Regions from separate parts of the Homo sapiens genome. Here region 1 is linked to region 2. A link means that fine-mapping ties the variant in region 2 to the expression of a gene that starts in the linked region. Tissue or cell type: whole blood. Region 2 holds a variant in brackets; the other region holds the start of a gene. All regions are shown on one strand. Distances are from middle to middle.

Evidence for each region. PIP is the estimated chance that this variant, and not a neighbour inherited with it, causes the effect.
Region 1: A3GALT2 starts here. The variant in region 2 is fine-mapped to the expression of A3GALT2 in whole blood (TOPMed, PIP 0.98).

The regions. Positions count from the first base shown.
Region 1 is chr1:33,316,280-33,324,279 of GRCh38, forward strand. A3GALT2 (alpha 1,3-galactosyltransferase 2) reads right to left here and starts at 4,819. Exons shown (of 5, transcript NM_001080438.1): 1 at 4,797-4,819. The coding sequence starts at 4,819. PHC2 (polyhomeotic homolog 2) reads right to left here. Exons shown (of 15, transcript NM_001385109.1): 15 at 7,347-8,000.
Region 2 is chr1:33,444,224-33,455,153 of GRCh38, forward strand. No RefSeq gene overlaps it. Among named protein-coding and RNA genes, the nearest start is that of PHC2, 19 kb to the left of the region's middle. RefSeq lists an enhancer at 10,645-10,930. The variant CAAAGA/C (reference allele first, on the strand shown) is at 4,753.

The sequences.
Region 1 (8,000 bases), 130 kb before region 2:
AGGGATGAGGCTGCAGAGGTGAGCCGGGGCCAGGTCACCCAGGGCCCGCATGTCAGGCTCGGGGAATTGGACTTCATCTTGAGGGTCATGGGGAGCCCTGAAAGGTATTTCCTCTGGGGAGTGACTCAGTCAGATTTTTATTTGAAAAAACAAAACAAAACAAAACAAAAAACCCAAAAACCAACAAACAAAAAAACCCTCCACAAACCTGAAAGTACTCCAGCTGAAATCTGGAGCCTGGCCATGGTGGGGTGGCAGGGAGGGCACTGCTGGAGGCAGGAAGATGAGTTAGGTGCCAGCCCCTGGGAGGTATCAGGGGCAACACCAGGGAGTTGGCAGCTGGATGGGGAGGAATAGGTGGTGAGGGGCTGTCAGGGAGGGCACATGGGCAAGACTTGGCCATGGATTTGAGGGACGGGGCTGAGGTACCAGAAAGGAGAAGATGCCTGGTTGTCTGGTTGGAGGAAGGGGGCTGGAGCCCAGAAGGCAGGCAGGCTCAGGAGAAAGTTCTGGGATTTGCCAGGAGGGCAGGGATGTTATGGGAGAGAGGGAGAGAGTACAGAGGGAGAGGAGGCCAGGGCCCAGGCCTAGACCAGGTGGGAATGGGAGGGAGACTGAGGAGGTAGAGGACTTAAGGAGAGGCACATGGGTTGGGTGGGAGTGGGGCTGTCTTTCCAGAAGTCGGGCTGTAAGGAGGACAGAGATGGGGTGGCAACTGGAGGGGACAGGGTGGTTGTATTGATGGGTGTGTGCTTGTTTCCCTTACACAAGCGAGACTTGAGCTTGGTTGAATGCTGCCTGGAAAGCACCCACAGAGAAGGCGTTTTGGGTCACAGGGAGAGGCATTATCTCAGCTCCTCAAATATAACTGAAGAAGGCTTTAGTGTCCAGCTGAAGGGACTGGCAAATAAACGTGTTAGGAAGACTCTGCAGTCACGTAGAAAAATGCTCATACAGGAACATGAAAGGAAAAAAGCAGGATCTAAAATTGAGGTGCACTCTGATTACAATTTAAGCAAGAATAAAAACGTGCATCAGAAAATAAGACTAAAAGGAAGAATGTGTTTGTGCAATAAAATTAGTTTCTTATTTTCTCCTCAATTTTCTGTAATGTATTTACAGTAGGTTGCTTTTTTAATGAAGGAAAAATTCAAAGTTAGCAATTTACACACAAAAAAATTGAAGTTATTTTGTGGTTTCCTGCTGAGTGCAGGACACCGTCCACATCTCTTAACCATGCCTGAGAAGCCTCCCAAGTCCAGCTCCTCCACTGTAACACTGTCAGTGCTCACAGCCCCTGGCCAGCTTGCCTGCAGCTAGGAATGGAGACTCTGCAGTGACTAGTCCCAGGATGTTCCCATAGCCTTCTCTGAAAAAGCAAACTAATGCAACAACCCCAGGGTTCATCAGTAGGGAACTGGATCAATGAATTAGGCATCTCTATACAGGTTGGGTATCCTTTATCCAAAAGTTTGGACCAAAAGTGTTTTGGATTTTGGACTTTTTTGGAGTTTTGAATATTTGCATTGTATTTACTGGCTAAGTATCCCTAATCTGGAAATCTGAAATTCAAAATGCTCCAGTGGGAGCATTTCCTTTGAATGTCCTGTCAGTGCTCAAAAAATTTCGGATTCTAGAGCGTTTTGGATTTCAGATTTTTGGATGAGGGGTGCTCAACTTGTATAATAGAAATCAACATGGCTATTGAAAAGGGTGAGGTAGATTTATATGTACTCTCTGGAAAACAGACCCTAATGTGTTAAGGTGAAAAGGAAGGAATAACTAATACGGAGAGGCAGACCTTGCTTCTGGCAGGGGGAAGCATCTGTGCCTGTGCACTCGAGCCTTTGCAGTCACGTATAGCCGCGTTCTTTCATGAGTGTAGGAAGAGATCTTGAATAGCATCATCCAGTGGAAGTATAGTGTGAGTCACATGTAATTTAAACATGTCTAGTAGCCACATTAAAACAGTGAAACAGGTATAAATTCGGATGTGCTGGTTTAAATAAAAATATTGTTACAAATAATTTAATGCCCCACATGCAGCCCATCAGCAAACCCTGGGGGTTCTCCCACTCACTCTCCTCCGTCCCCCTACTCACTCCTCCCCCATCCTGCCATTCACTCTCCCCTTCCTGTGTTCTCAGCGATTGATCCCAGTGACCCAAGTGGGACCCCTGCTTTCTCTCCCGACAGCCAAGTTGTTGCTTTTGCCTCCTTCCTAGTGCCCAAAACTCCCCTCCTGGCCTCCCTCACTGTCCTATCTGTGCCTCCTTGTTTCTCACTTGGATTCCTATAACAGCCTCCTGACCCTGCCTCCGAGTCTCCATCTTTTACCCTTCACTATGAAGTCTCCTAGGCTTCCCCACCTCTGTATTCTGTTCTGATTGCACTCTTCCTTCCATCAGCCAACAAGCTCCGCATCATTCCTCAGCACCCAGCTTCCTCCTGTCTGAAGCTGGCCTTGACATCTCCTCCGTTAGGTCCCTCCCCCAGGATGTGCCTCTGTCCCTTTCCCAGACCTCTCCTCCAGTACCTGCCAAGCGATGCTAGGGACTGTCTGCCTCACTCATTATGCCTCTGCCTCATAATTCATGCTATTGATAATTATTTGTTCAGCAAATGAATGAAACAACGAATGAGTTATTTGTGTTCATTCTCTCTTCCAAGTTGACTGGTACTCCTTTGCTTAAAACTCCATTTTCTTCAAGATTAAGTCTGCACTCCTTATGCATAATCCCAGACACTGAGACGGATACCTGGCCAAGTGTATTATGTGCCTGTCCTGTTAAAGGCACACCACAGCCCCTTGAAGGAGATGCTGTGCTTATGTCTACTTTATAAATGAGGAAACTGAGGCTTAGAAAGGTTAAATCACTTGCTTAGGGTTGCAGTTGCTCAGGGGAGAAAGCAGGGGTCCATTTGGGTCACTGGGATCAATCGCTGAGAACATAGAAGGAAAGATCAAGGAAATGCAAACTGCAGCTTGAGAAGCACTGAGTTGGGACACTCAGGTGAATACTGCTGTCCAGGGGACACACAATACCTCAGGGCAGCGCTCAGCAAGGGGGCTGGGCCAGGGTCACTGTGTGAGAGAGGATGCATGGAGGCTTGGAGCAGATCTCAGTGACAGCTCACCTCTGCAAGGCTGGGCGGCCTCATTGGTGTGAATCAGATGCACCACATCTTCTTTTAGGAGTAGGTTTGGTTCCCTCCCTCTTTGCTACACATATAACAAACTCAGGTGGGGCCTGGTTTTCATTTTCTTCCATAAAGGGAAAATTAAGGTCCAGAAAGTGAAAAGAACTGCCCAGAGTCCTATAGGCCAGTGGTGCACCTGCGCACGTGGCCTGCACTCCAGCAGCAGGAGAGGAGGCAGCACATGGGGCGTTCGTTCTTGCCTGGGGGCTCCCCACGGCTCACTCCCCAATCTCAGCATCCTCTCCTCCCCTGTCAGCTCAGGGTCCTGCCAGTCATTCCCTGCCTCCTGGGGCACCAGGCTTTCCAGTCCCTAGTTCTACCCCCTGGGGATCAACTAATCAGCTTGTTTCTCCTCCAATAAGTATCCGTGTTCTTTAGGTGAAAAGCCCCAACCTACTGCAGGTTTTCAGGGTGCACCTTCAGTAGGCATTTGCCATTCCTGTTTACACTTTACACCAAGGCATTTGCACGGCGGGTAATGGGTGGGGTTGGGCTTTGAGTAGGACTGCCCGATCCCCCAGCCAGAGCTTCCAGCATGGCATTTGGGTTCCATTTGACCTGGGCCTAGCTCAGCCCTGAGGCTCATCTCACAAGGTTCTCGGCCCTGTTATTTCTCCCCGTGGGCTTGGCTTCTTCCCTTCGCACTCTATTCAGCTCCTGTCTGAGCTCCTGGAGGGCTGGCTGCAGCTGGGCTTCTCTGGTTCCTAGAAGCCTGGTCAAACCCCGTACTGGGAGCTGGCAAGGCTGCCTCGGGAGGTGCACTGTGGGAGGTGTGCGAGGTACTGCGTAAGGTACTACAGGAGCAGGAAAAGGCTGGAGGGGCTTTCTCCCCCTCTGTGGCTGTCCCACCCTCTTCACCAGCCTCCTCCCAACCAGGGTAGGGCAAACCGATGCTTATTCTGGGCTCTGGGCCTCAGCCAGGGCACACAGGCAGAGTTGGTCTTGTGAACTCCTGTGGTCAGGCCTGGGAGGGTGCTGAGACCCAGGACTGGGTGGGACCCACCAGCTCCTCCTGCCCCTCCTATGCCCCAGCCTGGGAGCCCGTGGTCTGTGGAGGCCCCTGATCAGTCCACTCCTCCACATTTCTTGTTCAGGTTCTACCTGCAGAAGGTGGTCCCTCAAGCTCCACCCTGTGCCCTGCTCCCCACTCTCGTTGGCTTCAAGAAAGGGTTAAAGATCAGCCATTAGGTCTTAAGGGGGCACAGGTTCCTAGTCCTGGACCATCAGTCCCAGTGGGGATAGAGGGAGCTCTCAGTTACAGTCGGGGAGGGAATGTACCCCCGGGTCTCTGCTTTCCGGCTCGCCAAGGGGGTTTAGAGTTAAGGGAAGCAAGGGGAGTCCAGCTTTTCATTGGCTACAAAATCTTGTGGAATACAACCTCCCCCACCCCGGTGTCCATGCACACGGATTGTCTTTCTTCTCCTGGGGCAATGTCCCCTCTCGGAGCCACCTTTCCCCAGGACTGGAGGCTCAGCTGGTACTCCTGGGCTCACTCTGGTGCCTCCCCTTGGTACTGTTTTAGCCATCAGACTGGATCCCTCTTAGCTCAGCTGTCCCCAAGCTTTCTTCCTCTCCATACCATTGTCCCCCCTCACCTGAGTCCCTCCTTGAGAGCCATATGGGGAAGCAGGTAGGATGGCCTGGAGCAAACTTTCCCAGCTTAGAGCTGGGGAAGAAATGGCCTGCTCCTGGAGATCTGGAACAAGCAGCTCCTCCCCCTTTACCTGAGGAGCTGCACCCACAGGAGCAGTCAGGATGGACTGCCTGCGAGGGACCTGCCGGGGATGCAACCTTTTGGGGGAAGCTGGCCCCAAGGTGGAGTGGGGCTGGCAACCCTTTTGGGGCCAATCACCTGGAAGAGGGTGGGTCTGAGTAGGCCAGTTCTGGTTGGCTGGAGGCTCTGTCATTTTGTACAGACTCCTCTTCCCTCCCCAGGGGAAGTGTCTTTGGTTCTTGGGAACAGCTGGCAATCAAGGTATGGTGTTTGCCACGCAGGAAAAGCCGTTCTGCACAGAGCCTCAGCCAGATCTGAAGGGCACTCGGCACCTGTGACCTTGGACAGTTCACCTAGTGGAGCCCTTTACCTTCTCAGTAGAATGTACACCAGTACATACACCAGTCACCCAGGAGAGAGAACCATGTAAATTCGTGGATGTTGAACCGTTGTGATTTACTCTGGGCAGTGCTTTTTAAAGTTCCAGTTGTGACCTATCTGAAGGCCGTGTAATGAGTTTAGTGGGTCGTGACCAAGATTTTTAAAATACGAACAGGAATACAATGGAAAATATTCTATATTGTACGTAAGGGTAGGTTTTGTTTCATGAAATGTTTGTTTCAGTTGATAGATATTGAAATGTGTATACAAGTTTGGGAAATATTTCTTTAAATTGTGGATCATGATGGAAATAGGTCTGTGAAATTCAGTGTGAAGTGTAAACAACAGGAATAGCAAATGCCTATTGCAGGTGCACCCTGCAAACTTGCAGCAGGTTGGAGCTTTTCATCTAAAGAAGATGGATACTTATTGGTGTGAATCAAATTCACCACATCTTCTTTTAGGAGTAGGTTTGGTTCCCTCCCTCTTTGCTACACACAACAAACTCAGGTGGGGCCTGGTTTTCATTTTCTTCCATAAAGGGAAAATTAAGGTCCAGAAAGTGAAAAGAACTGCCCAGAGTCCTATAGGCCAGTGGTGCACCTGCGCACGTGGCCTGCACTCCAGCAGCAGGAGAGGCGGCAGCACATGGGGCGTTCGTTCTTGCCTGGGGGCTCCCCAGGGCTCACTCCCCAATCTCAGCATCCTCCTCCTCCCGTCAGCTCAGGGTCCTGCCAGCCATTCCCTGCCTCCTGGGACAGGCTTTCCAGTCCCTAGTTCTACCCCCTGGGGATCAACTAATCAGTGTGTTTCTCCTCCAAGACAGTTCCATTTTAATAGGCTTTCCAAAGAGGAGTTATTAAGATGTGAGTGTTGGTTCTTGAAAGTTACTTTCAAGTAAGTAATTGTCCTTTAGAGACTGTGATTCAGTAGGTTGTGGCCTGACCCTCAAACCACCCCCACCCCTGCTTTTTTTTTAAAAAAAAATAGGGTTTTTGTCTGTCACCTGGGTTGGGGGTGCAGTGGTGCAATCATAGCTCACTGCAGCCTTGAACTCTTGGGCTCAAGTGATCGACCTCAGCCTCCAGAATAGCTGGGATTACAGGTATGCACCACCTTGCCATTTTTTGGTATTTTTTTGTAGATATGGGGTCTCTCTATGTTGCCCAGGTTGGTCTCAAACTCCTGGCCTCAAGCAATCCTCCCACATCGGCCTCCCCAAAGTGCTGGGTTTACAGATGTGAGCAGCCATAACCTAAATTTTTAACAGGTAGAAATGGTCCCTTAGGGAAAAACCTGATGAAGGGGGAGGAGCAGTAAGGCCAAGCTGCCTCTTTTTCCCCTCCCCCCATAGATGTGGGGTAGATTTCACTCCACGCAAGAGGGCACATGGTTATTCTGTGCTTCACCCCAGTCTCATTTCTAGCACAGTGCCTGGTTCAGAGGCATGTGGTCAACACAGGTCACGGTTAGCAGCACACACGTCTAATCCAGCCAGCTCACCTGCCTCTCATTTGCACTTCCACGTTCATGCTTGTGCCTTTGCACTTATGCCTCGGTCTGGAATGCCCTTTCTCCTTCTTTATTCAAGGCTTAGATGCCTCATCTCTGCCCTAATCATTTTCTATTTGAGCATGCAAAAGTGCTCAGTGAACCAAAGCCATCCCAAGGCTATTCTGGATGCTGTGCAGCTCTATCGAGAGGTGTGTGCTGGAAGATGGGAGAGTCTGGGTTCTGCCCCAGGTGTCCAGAGGCTGCTAGCCCAACAGTCATCATCTCCCAAGTGGGAATGGCGGGTAGGGGGGCGCAGAGCAGAAAGGGCTTCTGGACCCTCTCACTCCAAGGGACACCGTGTGAAGAAAGCTGGTATCTACCGTGTGAACTGCAGCTGAGGGCACCCTCAAATGACCCAGCTCCAGAAAAGTGTGGAGGATATGCCATCCACTTAAGGTCCCTTCCCCAGCCCAGGGACCCACCTGTCTGTATGGGTGAAAAGTAGCCATTTGGGCCCAGAGACAGGCATTCCTAGGGGAGAAAGGCACCAAAGAGACAGATTTTACAGATTTATTTTTAAAAAACAAAACAAAGGTTAAAAAAGTCCTTCATTTCCAACCCTGCCTGGGGGTGTGGGTGGGGAATAGAATAAGCTCAGAAAGGTGCCTACCTCCTTCCTGCAAAGGACACGGCAGGTCAGAGGCAGGCCCTCGCCCTTTCTGCCCTGCCTCCTCCTCAGGTAGCTCAAATTGCTGCTAGGAAGATTTATAGGCAAAGAAGTGTGGGAGTGGGAGGCCAAGAGCTGCCTTCTTCACATCAACAGAAACTCCAGCTGTTCTTTCCCCTTAGCAGTTCTCTGAGCCTCACCACTGGGACTCCCAGGGTGGGCGGGCAGGCAGGCCAGGAGGCTCAGCCCTTTGGGCTATGTTGCTCAGACCACCGCAGCTTTCTTAATGCTCTTTGTGAACCAGGAGGGCGGTCAGGGGAACTTCACAGTGCGGGGAGGGGTGTCTGGAAAGGAAACTCTGAAGCGCCGTCTCTTTCTGACCTTGCCTCTGCGCTGAGGCTGCCATTCTTGGCTATTCCCCATCCTGAGGCTGAGTGGAGTCCAGGACAAAGCACTAAGTGGCTGTTTGCTACAAAACACCTGGAGATGCCAGAGAGTAGCCCTTGGCCTATCTGTCAGTCCAGGCTCCCACACAGTCACACA
Region 2 (10,930 bases):
ATGGGTCAGGTACAAGCCAAACACTTTACATTAATTTCATTTTAAACTCAGTAACCTTCTGAAGTGGGTTTTATTGCTGAACTCATTTTACAGATGAATAAATAGGCTCAGTGAGGTGGAGTGCTTTGCCCAAAGCTACCCACTTAGGAAGTGTTGGAGCCCCAAATTCAAACCCGTGTCTGTCTGTCTCCAGAGGCTGAGTTTAAAAAATGACAAAGAGACAGCAGGCCTAGGCAACCTGTTTTTTGGAGTCAAATAGGTTTGGATTCAAATCCTGGCTTTGCCATTTTCTAACTTTGTGATCTGAAGCAAGTCAATGTCCTTCTGAAGCCTCAGTTTTTTTCATCTGTGAAGTAGGGAGAGCAGAACCTAGCTGGCAACATTGTTATAAAGATTAAGAATAATGTATATAAGATGTATATGAATGCTTGATAAATGGTAATGTTACTATCGCCATCACCATCCTTATTCTTGCCTGTCATCTTTCCTCACCATGTTCAAGTAGATGGCAGAGTGCATGCAAAGCCTGCAAGCATGAAAGAGGCAGCATTTTTGGAGAGCTGAATCCAGCCTTACTTGATTATGAGAAAGAGGGGTGCACTTTCTTTTACTACCAGGGAAAGGTGGTATATTTTAGGGATAATTGTGGATCCTATCTGATATGGTTTGGCTGTGTCCCCACCCAAATCTCACCTTGAATTTTAATAATCCCCATGTGTCAAAGGCAGGGTCAGGTGGAGATAATTGAATCATGGGGGTGGTTCCCCCATACTGTTCTCGTGACAGTGAATAAGTTTCACAAGACCTGATGGCTTTATAAATGAGAGTTCCCCTGCACATGCTGTCTTGCCTGCTGCCATGTAAGACCTGACTTTGCTCCCCATTCACCTTTCACCATGACTGTGAGGCCTCCCCAGCCACGTGGAACTGTGAGTCAATTAAACTGCTTTCCTTTATAAATTACCCAGTCTCGGGTATGTCTTTATTAGCATCATGAGAACAGTCTAATACACTATCTATGACTGGATCCAAGGTGGCTATGGGTCCTCCGCAGGCTGGATGCACGGGTCATCACGGCGCACATCACATCCTGCTTCTGTCCTTCCTGCTGGACCCTGCAGGAAGTTTTGGTTTCCCTAGCACTTAGTTTTGGTTTCCCTAGCACTTGGGCATGGACATGGTCCATTGTAGCTTCATTAGCTCTCTCTACATTATAAATCTAAGACTCTTCAGTCTTAGATCCTTTTGGTAAGTGGCTCATTATTTGTTTCTTTAATTCAGAATCTACAAGAGAGAACCTAATTGGTCTAAGCTCACCATTTTATGCAGCACGAATCTGAATGAAGGAGGCATGCATACCTGAACAAAATCAGGCTTCTGTGGAGTAAAAAGAAAGTAAGCGGTGGAGGATAGTTGCTGGGAAGGCAATCAACAGTGACCACTACATTACACAAATCATTATTGAATCACAAATTGTGATAAACACTTGGAAGAGGTACAGGGTGCTAAAAGAGTGGGTAACAGGAGGACCTAAATTATATTGGGTGTCAGGGAGGAGGTTTTATAAGGCCTATAGATTGCCTTCCTTCCAACCAATACTCTGTTACTTAGAGTATGGGCCAAGCTGCTATAACAAAAATGTCCCCAAAATATAATAGCTTAAATGAGATATGAGTTTATTTTATAGTCCAGAGAGGAGCAGTCCATGGCTGCAGGGCTAGCTCTGATCCAGGGTGTCTTCTGGGGACCAGGTTGGTGAGTTGATGCTACTACCCTTAACATGAGCCTCCCACCTCTTGCTCCGCAGCACCAAGAATGCTCACATCCTAGTGACAAGAGCTCAGAGTGCCACGCCCAGCTGCAGGGGAGGATGGGGAAGGTAGAGTACTACTGGGCATTTGTATTCTCCAGTAAAACTCTGTGGGGGGTGTTGAACAAAAGGAAGGGATGGAGGCTCATTGAGGGCAATCCCAAGCCTCTGCTATGGGTACCCTGCCCTTGGGGGAGGAGATGAAGAGCTCAAGGGCTTTGGAATAGTTAGATGCAGTAGGGAGGCCCAGTAGGATGTGGACAAAAGGAGCCCACTGGGCTTGGCATTTAAGAGTTTCTATGGCCTCAAAGGGCAGGAGCCAGTCTGCAGGGTTGAGGATGAGAAGTGAAGATATGGAGCTGGAAGAATTAGACAATTCTTTTGAGTCATTTGGAAGAGCAGGGAAGGAAAGAGAGACAGAAATAGCCAAATCTAGAACAAAAGAACAAAGGAGGCCTTTTAAAAACCATTTGGGAGAACTTTGAGAATGTTTGCAGGCAAAAAGAATTATTTTAGTAGAAGAGAGTTTGAAGATGTGGGAAAGAGAGGAGTCAGTACCCCATTGAGGCAGTTCTCAGAGCAGGCAGGAAGGAATCAAGCACAAAGATGGAGAGACAGAAACATTTCTTCTGAGATGAGAGGAAGGCAGTGAGGACAGGTGGGGAAGTGGTTACATTTGTGGATATGGGGTGGGGAGGTGAGTCAAACAATCCCTGCCCTATAGCTCTTTTTTCTGAGTAAACCAGGAGGGAGGGGATTCCTGGCACAGAAGGGGCAGAGGGTTTATCAGCAATGAAGGGATCTGGGCAGCCAGGCCTAGATTCAGTCGGGTTCAGGGTCACGTGACTTTGACTCACATATCCATAGTCTACCAAAGCCAGCTCAATCTAGCTTAGAGAAAAAGTATGATTTTTTTTTTTTTGATGGAATTTCACTGTTGTTGCCCAGGCCGAAGTGCAGTGGAGCGATCTCAGCTCACTGCAACCTCCTCCTCCCGGGTTCAAGAAATTCTGCCTCATCCTCCCGAGTGGCTGGGATTACAGACATGTGCCACCATGCCCGGCTAATTTTGTATTTTTAGTAGAGACGGGGTTTCTCCATGTTGGTCAGGCTGGTCTCGAACTCCCGACCTCAGGTGATCCGCCTGCCTCGACCTCCCAAAGCGTTGGGATTACAGGCGTGAGCCATTGCACCCGGCCCGGAGTATCTTAATACCAAAGGCAGGAGGGCCTCTGGGCTTCAGGAAGAGCGTGGATCCAATGAACTGGATAGCTCTACGCTCTCAGTGGGGGGTCCATGGCATATGGGGCAAGGAGGAAATGTGAGGAGTAGCCAAGCTTGAGATATCCCTGGGGATGCAGGAGTTCTAGAACCTTGAAAGGGAACTGGGTTCCTGCCTTGATTTAGGTGTGGGGTTGAAATACCAACATCTGGATCTAAATTACAGTATAGTTTCATTTGTAGCCATAAGCTAGGGCAGCTTGGAGGACATCTAAATTACATTTTGGGGAGTGTAACAGTCAGGATTCCAGCAGATAACAGTTGACACCCTCACAACGGGTAACCTGAGAAAAGTTTAATAAAGAGTCTTTACAAATGTGTGAGCAGGATTTAGCCAAAGCACAAGAGACAGTGCAGAACCTGGGGCCGGTGACAGGAAAACTAGACCTGAAAGTGTGAGAGGAAAGAGAAGTTGCTTGAACTCAGAGAGGCCTCTGTGGAGAGGGCCATCCTGCAGGAGCTGAGATCTTCCACTAAGGGATGCGGCAGCCCGTGGCAGCCTCGCAGAGGCGTCAGAGGAGTCCATATCTTACCCCTATCCTCCTCCCACCCTCCAACTCCTGCCAGTGCTCTCACTGGCTAAGCCCAGCAGGAAGCCAGAGGACAAGAGAGCTCACTGATGTGGTTGGTTCCTAGAGTTTATGTGCTTGGCATCCAAAGCAAGGTGGAAAAAGGTGGAGAGTGGGTCTGGAGGGGCAAATGGAAGAGCACAGGAGGCTTATTCATGGTTGTACTCTGCACACACACACCATAGATGCATTATCCTTGTCCAAATACCTGACTACGGTTTGTGACACTAACAGGAGAGCTAGAGGCCTTGCCTCTGAGGGTGAAGGGCTCTCCAGTAAGGGAAGGGTTCTGGCCCTGATTTACAAGGGAGCAGAAGAGAAAGCTTCTGAGAAAAGAACTTAAACTTTGTCCATGATTAGGGGTTAGTTATGAACAAGTATGTTGGGCCAACTGGGAGAGAAGGAGGCAGTGACAGAGGGCAAATGAGAGGAAAAAACTATGAGGTAGAATCCATTCAACTGGATATGCAGTGTGGTTGGCCGAATAACAGCCCCCCAAAGATGTTCACTTCCTCATCCCTGAAACCCGTGAATACATGACTTTACACAGCAAAAGGGACTTTGCAGGTATAATTAACTTAGGATTTTTTAATGGAAAGATTACCCTGGATTATCCAGGTAGGCCCAGTGTAATCACAAGGGGCCTTATAAGAAGAAGACAGCAGCCTGGGCGACAGAGCAAGACTCTGTCTCAAAAAAAAAAAAAAAAAAAAGAAGTAGAAGAAGGCAGGAGGGACAGTCACAGAAAGTGATACGAGAAGAAAAAGTAGAGACTGAACGATAGTAGTGACACAATCTATCAAATCCTCTGGGTTACAGCAAAAGCAGTGCTAAGAAGAAAGTTAATATCATTAAATGCCTACATCAAAAAGTCTGAAAGAGCACAAATAGACAATTTAAGGTCACACCTCAAGGAACTAGAGAAATAAGAACAAACCAAACCCAAACCCAGCAGAAGAACAGAGATAACCAAAATCAGAGCAGAACTAAATGAAATTGAAACAACAACAAAAACAATACAAAAGATAAATGAAACAAAAGGTGCGTCCCTTGAAAAGATAAATCAAATTGATAGACCATTAGCGAGAGTAA[CAAAGA/C]AAAGAAGAGAGAAGATCCAAATAAGCTCAATTAGAAATGAAACGGGAGCTATTACAACCAATGCCACAGAAATGCAAAAGATCATTCAAGGCTACTATGAACATCTTTATGAGCATAAACTAGGAAACCTAGAGAAGATGGATAAATTCCTGGAAATATACAACCCTCCTAGATTAAACCTGAAAGAAATAGAAACTCTGAAAGACCAATAACAAGATTGAAATGGTAATTAAAAAGTTACCAACAAAAAAAAGTCCAGGACCAGATGGATTTACAGCTGAATTTTATCAGACATTCAATGAAGAATTGGTACCAATCCTATTGACACTCTTCCAAAAGAGAGAAAGAGGGAAATCCTCCCTAAATCATTCTATGAAGCCAGTATCACCCTAATACCAAAACTAGGAATGGATATAACAAACAAAGAAAACTACAGACAAATATCCCTGATAAACATAGATGTAAAAATCCTCAACAAAATACGAGCTAACCGAATCCAGTAGCATATCAAAAAGATAATCCACTATGATCAAGTGGGTTTCATACCAGGGATGCAGGGATGATTTAACATCCACAAGGCAATAAGTGTGATACACCACATAAACAGTAAGCAGAATTAAAAACAAAAATCACATGATCATCTCAATAGATGCAGAAAAGCATTTGACAAAATCCAGCATCTCTTTATGATTAAAACCCTCAGCAAAATCGGCATAGAAGGTAATAAAAGCCATCTGTAACAAACCCACAGCCAACATTATACCAAATGGCAAAAAGTTGAAAGTATTCCCCCTGAGAACTGGAATAAGACAATGATGCCCACTTTCACTACTTCTATTCAACATAGTACTGGAAGTCCTAGCCAGAGCAATCAGAAAAGAGAAAGAAATAAAGGGAATAAAAATCTATAAAGAGGAAGTCAAACTGTCGCTGTTCACCATTGATATGATTGTATACCTAGAAAACGCTAAAGACTTATCTAAAAAGCTCCTGGAACTGATAAGTGAATTCAGCAAAGTTTTAGGATACAAAATTAATGTACACAAATCAGTAGCACTGCTATACACCAACAGTGACCAAGCTGAGAATTAAATCAAGAACTCAACCCCTTTTACAATAGCTGCAAAATAAATAAATAAATAAATAAATAAATAAATACTTAGGAATATGACTAACCAAGGAAATGAAAGACCACTACAAGGAAAACTACAAAACACTGCTGAAAGAAATCATAGACAACACAAACAAATGGAAACACATCCCATGCACATGGATGGGTAGAATCCATATTCTGAAAATGACCATATTGCCAAAAGCAATCTACAAATTCAATGCAATTCCCATAAAAAGATCACCATCATTCTTCACAGAATTAGAAAAAACAACCCCAAAATTCATATAGAACCAAAAGAGTCCACATAGCCAAAGCAAGACTAAGCAAAAAGAACAAATCTGGAGGCATCACATTACTAAACTTCAAACTATACTATAAGGCCATAGTCACCAAAACAGCATCATACTGGTATAAAAATAGGCACAAAGAAATAAACCCAGAAATAAAGCCAAATACTTACAGCCAACTGATCTTCGACAAAGCAAACAAAAGCATAAAGTGAGGAAAGGACAGCCTATTCAACAAACAGTGCTGGGATAATTGGCAAGCCACACGTAGAAGAATGAAGCTGGATCCTCATCTCTCACCTTATACAAAAATCAACTCGAAGTGCATCAAAGACTTAAATCTAAGACCTGAAACCATAAAAATTCTGGAAGATAACATTGGAGAAATCTTCTAGACGTTTTGGCTTAGGCAAAGACTTCAGGACCAAGAACCCAAAAGCAAATGCAACGAAAACAAAGATAAATAGATGGGACTTAATTAAACTGAAAAGCTTCTGCACAGCCAAACAAATAATCAGCAGAGTAAACAGACAACCCACAGAGTGAGAGAAAATCTTTGCAGACTATGCATCTGACAAAAGACTAATATCTATAATCTACAAGAAACTCAAACAAATCGGCAAGAAAAAAAAACAAACAATCCCATCAAAAAGTGGGCTTAGGACATGAATAGTCAATTCTCCAAAGAAGATATACAAATGGCCAACAAACATATGAAAAAATGCTCAACATCACTAATGATCAGGGAAATGCAAATCAAAACCACCATGCGATACCACCTTACTCCTGCAAGAATGGCCATAATCAAAAAATAAAAAAATAATAGATGTTGCTGTGGATGTGGTGAAAAGGGAACACATTTACATGGCTGGTGGGAATGTAAACTAGTACAACCACTGTGGAAAACAGTGTGGAGATCCCTTAAAGAACTAAAAGCAGATCTACCATTTGATCCAGCAATCCTGCTACTGGGTTTCTACCCAGGAGAAAAGAAGCCATTATATGAAAAAGATACTTACACACTATACACCTGTATAGAAACACTGTACTCATTGTGTAGTCTTTTATCCTTCACCCTCCACCCTTTCTCCCCTGAGTCCCCAAAGTCCGTTGTATCATTTGTATGGCTTTGCATCCTCATAGCTTAGCTCCCACTTATGAGTGAGAACATATAATATTTGGTTTTCCATTTCTGAGTTACTTCACTTGGAATAATGTTCTCCAATTCCATCCAGGTTACTGCGAATGCCATTAGTTCATTCTCTTTTCACCATATCCATGCCAACATCTATTATTTTTTGGTTTTTTGATTATGGTCATTCTTATAGCAGTAAAGTGGTATTACATTGCAGTTTTGATTTGCATTTCCTCGTTAATTAGTGATGCTGAGCATTTTTCATCTGGCTGATGGGTGCACTAAAATCTCAGAAATCACCATCGAAGAACTTATCCATGTAACCAAACACCATCTGTTCCCCAAAAACTGTTGAAATAAAAGCAAATAAAATATAAAAGAAAATCAAGTTTCCCAAATTTTGAAATAAAATTTGGATTACAAAAAAGAAAAACCATAAACAACAACAAAAAAATAAAGTTTCTGCACAGCAAAGGAAATCATCAACAAAGAGAAGAGACAACCCAGAGAATGGGAGAAAATATTTGCAAACTACCCATCTGATAAGGGATTAATAACCAGAATATAGGAGGATCTCAAACAACTTTACAAGAAAAAAATCTAATAATCCAGTTAAAACATGGGCAAATGGTTTGGATAGACATTTCTCAAAAGAAGACATACAAATGGCAAACAGGCATATAAAAAGTGCCCAACATTATTGGTCATCAGAGGAATGCAAATCAAAACTACAATGAGATATCCTCTCAACCCAGTTAAAATGGCTTATATTCAAAGGACAGGCAGTAACAAATGCTGATGAGGATGTGGAGATAAAGGAACCCTCATACACTGTTGGTGGGAATGTAAATTAGTACAATCACTATGGAGAAACAGTTGGAGGTTCTACAAAAAACTAAAAATTGAGCTACCATACGACTCAGCAATCCCACCGCTGGGTCTATACCCAAAAGAAAGGAAATCAGTGTATTGAAGAGATATCTGCATTCCTGTGTTTGTCGCAACACTGTTCACAGTAGCCAAGATTTGGAAGCAACTGAAGTGTCCATCAGCAGGTGAATGAATAAAAAAAATGTGGTACTTATACACAATGAAGTGCCACTCAGCCATGAAATAGAATGAGATCCAGTCATTTACAATGACACAGATGGAACTGGAGGTCATTATGCTAAGTGAAATAACCCAGGCACAGAAAGACAAACACTGCATGTTCACACTTACTTTTGAGGTCTAAAAATCAAAACGATTGAACTCATGGGGAGAGAGAATAGAAGGACGGTTACCAGAGGTTAGGAAGGGTAGTGGGGGGCTGTGGAGGAGGTTGGGGTGGTTAGTTCATACAAAAAATAGGAGGAATGAATAAGACCTAGTATTTGATAGCACAACAGGTGACTATAGTCAATGATAATTTAATTGTATACTTTAAAATAACTAAAAGAGTATACTTGGCCAGGCGCAGTGGCTCATGCCTGTAATTCTAGCACTTTGGGAGGCTGAGGCAGGCGGATCACTTGAGGTCAGGAGTTTGAGACCAGCCTGGCCAACGTGGTAAAACCCCGTCTCTACTAAAAATACAAAAATTAGCTGGGTGTGGTGGCAGGCACCTGTAATCCCAGCTATGTGGGAGACTGAGGCAGGAGAAGTGCTTGACCCTGGGAGGCAGAGGTTACAGTGAGCTGAGATTGCGCCACTGTACTCCAGTCTGGGTGACAGAGTGAGACTCTGTCTCAAAAACAAACAAACAAACAAACAAACAACAAAAGAGTATACTTGGATTGTTTGTAACACAATGGATAAATACTTGAGGGGATGGATACCCCGTTTTACAAGATGTGATTACACATTGCATGCCTGTATCAAAACATCTCATGTACCCCATAAATATATACGCCTACTATGTACTCAAAAACATTAAAATAACAAAAAAGAAAAAGAAAAAGAAAAAAAGTAGAGGACAGAATGGGGCCACAAGCCGAGGAATGTGAGGCCTCTAGAAGCTGAAAAAGCCAAGGAACAGGATTCTCCCCTCAAGCCTCCAGAAGAATGCCCTTTTTGGACTTTTGACCTCCAGGGCTGGGAGAGAATACATTTATATTGCCTGTAACCATTACATTTGTGGTAATTTGTTATAGCAGCAATAGGAAACTAATACATGTAGTTATTATTAGGTCTCTCAAACATATTAGGGACTCAGTAAATAGTAGCTGAATGAATGAAGGAGTCTGGAATGAACAACAGAACTCAGCAGAGGATCTGAGGAATGGAGGTGGGTTGTGGCTCTGGGTCCAATATCTGTATGTATCTGTAGATGTGGGGAAAAATAGCCATCTTTCTAGATAATGTACCACCTCAGGACTTGAGCAATTCTGCTGTGGTTCTCCTCTAAGGGGAGGTAGATCAGTTTCTCTATCCTTTTTGGAATAAAAAGGCAAGGCCCAGGATCAGGGTCCCAGGCATTGATTTGCGAGGGGTGTCAGGCAGCAGTTATACAGAACTTGAAGAGGTACCTTAGAGCAAGTGGTGCCATATGAACATCCACCACGTGGAGCACCAGAGTGAAGTCAAAGGCCATCGTGGAAGAGGTGGCGTGAGCAGTGGCCCTGCCTGGCCTAGACAGTGCAGGAATTCCCAAAGACACTGAGGGGCAAAGCAACCTCGTGATGGTTCTGAGCCCTGCAGTTACCTGGTTTGTGCGTGGGGCAATACTGAGCTAGCATGATGTGTGTCCACATGCTATTGTGGCCTCGTTCGAATGAATGAGGTCTATGGCCTCGAGATCAACGCTGTAATACAAAGGGAAGGAGCATGTTACGGATCATATTGTATTCCCCCAAAAAAGATGTGTTGGAGTCCTGACTCCAGCACCTCAAAATGTGACCTTATTTGGAGGTAGTCTTTGCAGAGGCAATTAAAATGAAGTCATTAGGGTGGACCCTAATCCAATATGATCAGTGTCCTTATAAAAAGGGTCAGTTTGAACCCAAAGCTAGGCCACATGGAGGGAAGACCATGTGAAGGGAAGCAGGGAGAAGATGAACATTGACAAGCTAAGGAGAGAGGCCTGGAACAGAGCCTTTCCGCACAGCCCCCAGAAGGAACCGAGCCTTCTGACACCCTGATCTCAGACTTCCAGCCTTCCAAACTGTGAGAGAATACATTTCTGTTATTTAAGCCACCCAGGGAGTGGAACTTTGTTACCGCAGCCCTGGAAAACAAATGCAGAGCCATTCTCCCCTGTTCTGCTTCCTGGCACTACGCACCATCTTGGGGGCTCGGAGAGCTGTGAGGTCTGGCAGGTGAAGGACCAGGCACCCCATGGAGCAGCAGGAAGTGGCAGCTGTGCATGCTCTGCCCAGCAGCAGAGTGGGAGCAGCATACTGCCTGGGCTCCCTGGCAGCATGGCTGCAGGCATCTGCAGAGATCAGCTGTGCCTTGCAGGAGCAGCTGTGTGAAATCAGGCTCAGAAGGGTGGATAAGCTCCACAGAGGAGTGTGGAGAGACCCTGGGGGTCAGCAAGGCAGTGGGGCTACTGTGGGAATGGACTTGCTTTTAGCATAAGTGAGACATGCCCTGGGATAAACTTGGTGGGTGACTCACACCTATAATTGCAGCACTTTGGGAGACCGAGGCGGGCAG